Homo sapiens: one gene and its partner. The protein of the gene in region 1 interacts with the protein of each later gene in a pairwise test. Each region holds a gene or a part of one and is shown on either strand. Other genes may lie near its edges. The genes, in order: RBAK and EIF1AD.

Region 1 (4,028 bases):
TCTCAAAAAAAAAAAAAAAAAAAAAGAAAAATGCAAAACTCCTGGGCTCCAGCAATCCACCTGCCTTGGCCTCCCAAAGTGTTGGGATTACAGGCTTGAGCCAGCACGCCCTGCCCAAACTTGTAGTTTAGAAAAAGGAAGTGCCCAGTAAGCAGGCTGCATTATCCTATTATTTATAAAGAACATATCAACAAGGGGTTCAAATCCAGTGATACAGCTAGGACCATGTAGATCCCAAGAGATAGCAGAGGCAGGGCCGCTAGGCTGTGGGCTGAGAAACTAAAGCAGAACATCCAAGCTTATCCACAGTCAGGCCACAGGAGCTGATAAAATCACCGAGAGAGAGTAATAACCTTCTGGGTTAAGTTAGTCCAGAAGGCAAGGAGGTAGTAGGGGTTAGAAGACTGATCAACCAATAAATAACATAAAATTACATGCCAATACCACTTACATCAATACAAAAACCCAAAATGAAACATAATCAAACAAAATCCAGTACCAGATTAAAAACATAATATACAATAGCCAAATGGGACTTATTCCAATAATATAGACTAGTTTAATATTTGGAAATCTATTAATATGATAAGCCACTATAACACAGCAAAGAAGAAAAATCTTGTATCCGTGAAGATACCTGAAAAAGCTTGACAGAAAAAGCTGATTTAAAAAAACAAACTAAAGAAAATAGAAACTGATGGATACTTCATTAACATCAATAACATGTATATACACAAATATAAATATTGCACCCTAATATGCAATAGTATGTATGATATATATGTGACATATGTATTTCAATTACACACAAGCACATATATATACAGTTTGTGTGTATATACACGCACGCACACACACACACACACACACACACACACACACATTTATGCCTCAGTCTTCTCGGTCCAAAAGTCAGGATTTTACTTAACAGGGAAAAACTACATACCTTCCTACTAAGATCAAGAACAAGGTATTAATAAAATGCTCATTATCTACAATTAGAGAAGATAAAACAATTAGAGGAATATAACTAAGAAAAAGTAAAAGTGCTCGGGCACGGTGGCTCACGCCTGTAATCTCAACACTTTGGGAGGCCGAGGCGGGCAGATCACCCGAGGTCAGGAGTTCAAGACCAGCCTGGTCAACATGGTGAAACCCCCATCTCTACTAAAAAACAAACAAACAAAAAAAATTAGTTGTATTATTAAGGTCAACTTACCCTACCTAGGGTAAGTCAGTTACCCTAAATTACTTTATAAATATGCAACCCCAGTAAAAATACCAAAAAGCTTTTTCCTGGAACTAGATAAGCTGACACTACAGTTCATATGAGGTGGAAGAAAATCAAAAACAGCTCAGGGAAAAACACCATTTGGACATGGACAAAACTGGATCCAGGCCAGGTGCAGTGGCTCATGCCTGTAATCCCAGCACTCAGGAAACTGAGGCAGAAGGACTGCTTGAGGCCAGGAGTTTGAGACCAGCCTTGGCAACATAGCAAGACCCTGTCTCTACAAAGAAAAAAATATATATATTAGAAAAAATATATATAGAGAGAGACATGAGGACTTCTGCCCTCAGTTGTGATAAACTAACAGGTACTGGATATACCCTCCAACCTGAAATGGCACATAACAAAGAACAGCAGCAACAACAAAATCAAAAACAGAAAGAAAAATAAAACGGAGAACATATATGAAGCAATGGTTTTTTTTTTTTTTTTTGAGGCAAAGTCTCACTCTTGTCTTCTAGGCTGGAGTGCAATGGCACAATCTTGGCTCACTGCAACCTCCGTCTCCCGGGTTCCAGCGATTCTCCTGCCTCAGTCTCCCAAGTAGCTGGGATTACAGGCGTGTACCAGCATGCCTGGCTAATTTTTGTATTTTTAGTATAGAAGGGGTTTCACTATGTTGGCCAGGCTGGTCTCAAACTCCTGACCTTGTGATCTGCCCTCCTTGGCCTCCCAAAGTGCTGTGATTACAGGTATGAGCCACCACGCCCGGGCTGAAGCAATGGTTTTCAAGGCACTGATTATCAGGCAGTAGAGTTATCTATGAGTGATGGGAAATAAACAAGGTGAACCAATCAACTTCTGCCTTGAGTGTTTCCAGGCCACAGAGCAGGGAAGAAGAACAGAGACAGATGTGAGGTGTAAGAGTTGCGAGATGGGAAAATGGGCAGGAAATTACAACCATAAGGAAGAAAAGAATCAGTCCATCAAAACTGGCCCAGAATTGACAGAGTTTACAACCCACACAGAGCACTGAGAGAGTTCATCATTCTATTCCACATGTTCAAAAAAATTGAGACAGGCAAGATGTAAAAAAGACCCACGCTAACCTTCTACAGATAGAAACTACAATATCTGAGATGAAAATTATACTGGACAAGATTAACAGCATCGTGGAAAAAAGAGATTAGTGAATATAAAGACAGCAACAGAAGTTACATAAAATGAAACAGAGAAAAAAGAATTAAAAGCAAATAAAGAGCAACAGTGTGTTGTGGGAAAATTTCAAGTGGCCTAATATACAGGCAACAAGAATCAATGGAGGGGAGGTGGTGGGTATGTGAAGAAATAATGATAAAAATGTTCCCAAAGTGATGACACCATAAACCCAAGATCCAAGAAGTTCAGTGATCCCCAAAACAGAAACATGAAAAAAATGATACCATGACATATTGCAATCAAATTACCCAAAACTAGTGATAAAAAGTTTACAACATAAGGGGGGAAAGAAAAAAAGACATGTTATATACAGGGGAACAAAGATGAATATGAGATCAGATTTCTCTTAGAAAAAAATGTAAGCAGGAAGACAATAGAGAAACATATTTAAAGCACTGTGGAGAAATATCCAGCAGAAACACCTTTAAAAGCTAAGACACAATGAAGACATTTGCAGACGTACAAGAATTCATCAACTAGAAGAAATGTTAAAGAAAGTCCTTGAGGCAGAAGTAAAATGACAGCAAATAAAAATTTAGATTTACACAAAGGAATGAAGAGTACCAGAAATGGTAACTGTGTATTTTCTCTCATTACTTAAATCTTTTTAAAAGATAACTGGGCTGGGTGTGGTGGCTTACACCTGTAATCCCAGCACTTTGGGAGGCTGAGGCAGACAGGTCACCTGAGGTCAGGAGTTTGAGACCAGCCTGGCCAACATGGTGAAACCTCATCTCTACTAAAAATACCAAAATTAGCCGGGTGTGGTGGTGGGTGTCTGTAATCCCAGCTACCCGGGAGGCTGAGGCAGGAGAATCACTTGAACCTGGGAGGCAGAGGTTGCAGTGAGCCAAGATCGCACCCCTGCACTCCAGCCTGGGGGACAGAGTGAGACTCCAACTCAAAATCAATCAATCAATCAATCAATCAATCAATCAAAGATAACTGTTTAATTAACAACAACGTAATAGATTCTGTGTGGCACTGATACCACCTGTAAAAATAAAATGAACAACGGTGTAAAGACCAAGAGGAGAGAAATGAAAGTATCCTATTGTAAGCTTCTCTTACTCTAAGAAAAATGGTATATCACTTAAGAATAAACTATGATAATTAAAGTTGCATACTATAAATTCTAACTCACTAAAATAACAAAACAGTGTGATAGCTAAAAACTCAACAAAAGATATAAAGTAGAATCATAAAAAATTATCAATTAATCAAGAGGAAGGAAGACAAACAAAGACATTTTAAAAAGAAACAAAGAAGATGAGACTAAAAGAAAGCAAAGGCAATGGACTATAACCTAACTAGTTTTATCAATAATTACATTACATGTAAACAGTCTATACATCCCCAATTATGAGGCAGAAATAGACTGATGAAAACAAGCAAGATCCAAATCTTGCTGCCTACAAGAAATAATACTTTAGATATAAAGATGCAAATACGTTATAAGTAAAAGGATGGAATAAGATATACCATGCATGCATTACTCAAAAGAATGCTACATAAATAACAAAGTACATTTCAGCCTGGAATACTAGCAGGGATAAGGAAGGCCATTTTACAAAGTGGT
Region 2 (3,113 bases), on another chromosome or scaffold:
GACAGATTAGAAATTCCAAAAAAGATCCATATATATGCAGGAATTTATGTTTTAAAAGATATTTCTGGCCAGGCGTGGTGGCTCATGCCTGTAATCCCAGCACTTTGGGAGACCAAGGCAGGCAGATCACGAGGTCAGGAGACTGAGACCATCCTGGCTAACAACGGTGAAACCCCATCTCTACTAAAAATACAAAAAATTAGCCGGGCGTGGTGGTGGGTGCCTGTAGTCCCAGCTACTCAGGAGGCTGAGGCAGGAGAATGGCGTGAACCCGGGAGGCAGAGCTTGCAGTGAGCCGAGATGGCGCCACTGCACTCCAGCCTGGGCAACAGAGCGAGACTCCGTCTCAAAAAAAAAAAAAAAGAAATATTTCCAGTGAGCAAAGAATGAACCTTTCAAGAAATAGTACAGGGACAAGTGACTTTCCCTTTAGGGAAAGTTTGCTACCTCTCAGAAAAAACAAACTTCAGATGAATTAAAGATAGATACACACACATACATATCTTTAACCCATCTCGTTTATTTTTTGTATATACATCTACATACATTTTATACATTATATTCATATATACATATATACAAATGTATATATGTTTAAAGCCACGCTATAAGAGAAAGTAAATGAGAAACAGACAAATGAAGTGGTAGCTGGAGGACGTGGGAATCAGTACAGGTTTTCACGCCTGTTTCAGAAATGGGAGATTCTACAGCACGCTCGACACTAACACATCACATCCATAACATATCACATCCAATAGACAGGACAGCCAAAAACACAAAACAAAAAAAGAATCAAATACCCACACCCAGACACAATACTCAACAACACAAATACCCGACCAAAGTCTTTAAGAAAGCAAAAGAGGCCGGGCACAGTGGCTCACACCTGTAATCCCAGCACTCTAGGAGGCCAAGGTGGGTGGACCACTTGAGGTCAGGAGTTCGAGACCAGCCTGGCCAACATGGCAAAACCTCGTCTCTACTGAAAATATAAAAATTAGCCAGGCATGGTGGCACACGCCTGTAATCCCAGCAGTTTGGGAGGCTGAGGCAGGAGGCTCATTTAAGGTCAGGAGTTCGAGACCAGCCCGGGCAACATGGCAAAACCCCGTCTCTACTAAAAATACAAAAAGTTAGCCAGGTGTGGTGGTGCACGCCTGTAGTCCAAGCTACTCGGGAGGCTGAGGCAGGAGAGTTACTTGAACCCAGTAGGTGAAGGTTACAGTGAGCCGAGATCACACCACTGCACTCCAGCCTGAGCAACACAGGGAGACACTCTCTCAAAAAAAAAAAAAAAAAAAAAAAGATAGTCTCCAAAACACAAGAGGTAAGGTTTAAGTCCCATTGGCTTACGACAGGAAGATATGTGCACATCTGCAGAGCTGGTAACAGGGAGGCAGGCATTCCCTCTGATGGTTGCTGTTTCTTAATGAGGCATGTGTTGTGGTAACTACCACAAGGGGGAATTGATAGATAAGACAGAAGTTTTGAAACAGACATCCCAGAGTAGATCTGCTGGGCAGTGCTTAGTGTCCATCTGAGGTTTGTAATGATAAACGTAAGGTACAACTGGTGGCCAGGCTGGCTGTTTTCTCACCTAATGATGGTGACTTGGGTTTGGGCACAGAGGTGAATGATTGGGTTTACCCAGGGTTAGGGTTTTACTAGCGGAACAGAATGGAGGGAGACAGAGGGGTGTAGGGTGGACTACGGAATTGATGCTACACAAGAGGGAAGTGAAGGCAGAAGGTTACTCATGAGAATGTCAGGGCTGGTTAGAAGAATGAAGGGTGAGGGTGGAAAAGCAGCCTCTATTTAAAAGGTTATAAGACAATCAATGTCCTCAGGGAATAATCAGGTTTCAAATAAAGTCAGGAGATGGATGGACCATTCAAAACAAAGTTAAGGATAGAGAGATTTGCCAGCCACCTTCTGGAAGTGATAGATGGTGCAGAGTGGGAGAGATGAGGTCGTATGTGGGGATGGACACAGTAGCTGGAGGTGAGCACTCCCGTACACAGGGTGACTAGAAAGGCGGGGAGAACAGCACGAGGCACCATGGGCTCCTGAGCGTCTCTTAGAGGCAGGTGGGTGTTAGGTCCTAGGGCTGTCATCCTGAATGCTTAAATTGGTATGAACTGCAAGCAGGCAAGGAAGCAGGAGTGCTCCCAGCTGTTAAACACATGCAAGAAGGCCCAGAGCACGGCCTGGCACTTTCTAAGTGCCCAATAAGAAAGAACAAACCACCTGGGAAAGACTCCAGCCATTTCCCATTTCCTCCCCATTCAGCCCACCCACCCACAAGGTCTCTAATAAATAGGGAGCAGTTTTTCACTTCATCACAATCTCCCTCCCCCGAGAGAGCCACTCAGACACCAGAACAAGTCACCAACCCACCAGGGGTTTAATTCTCTGAATCAAAAGATCAGTTCAGAGAGGAGCCCTGCTTTGTCCTCATGCAGGGGTGAAGATGTGCAGAGCACCCTGGGAATGTCCAAGCCCAGAAGAGCCAGGGGCCAGTCCCTGAGCAAGTGGAGAATTGGGTCCTGGAGTCTCAGGCTGCCTCCTCCTCTTCACTCTCCTCCTCACTCTCATGATACTGTCTGCGGTTTGTGTTAACAAACAGGTCAGAATCATCTTCTGAGCTGGACTCCTCTCCTGATAACTGTGGCTCAGCTGGGAGTTCTGGTTGAGTTTGTCTGCACGAAGGGAAGAGAGCAGGGTTAGCCCAGCGCCTTCTGGGAAAATAATATCTACAATCAAGGAGTTCCAAAAAAAGGACCATCCGGCCCAGCAGTCAGGGCCCTACAGCACCCTTTAAAGACTCAAACAAGGGACACAGGAGAGCAAACAGTGGGGAAACGTGGCCAAAGAAACAGGCTAAAGACTGACCCCACTCCCCAAACGTGTGCCACAGCCATTTGTTTTAGTTAGAAATAATGATTCTACGACCACCAACTAACACTTAATGGACCCATATCACATAACAGATACTGCACTAAGCAATTTTACAAGCCATCCACTTCTTTAATCCTCACAAAGCTCCCATTTTACATATAAGAAAATAGAGTTTGAAGGAATTAAATAACGTGCTTAAAGTCATTCAGCTTTAA

Evidence for each region.
Region 2: the proteins of RBAK (region 1) and EIF1AD interact in binary tests that used the Homo sapiens proteins (3 or more experiments, as listed by UniProt).

The regions. Positions count from the first base shown.
Region 1 is NC_000007.14:5,052,102-5,056,129, reverse strand, and holds part of RBAK (RB-associated KRAB zinc finger protein), read right to left. Parts: intron 1-4,028. UniProt on the Homo sapiens protein: May repress E2F-dependent transcription. May promote AR-dependent transcription.
Region 2 is NC_000011.10:65,996,045-65,999,157, forward strand, and holds the end of EIF1AD (probable RNA-binding protein EIF1AD), read right to left. Parts: intron 2,700-3,113; coding exon 2,555-2,699; 3' UTR 501-2,554; downstream 1-500.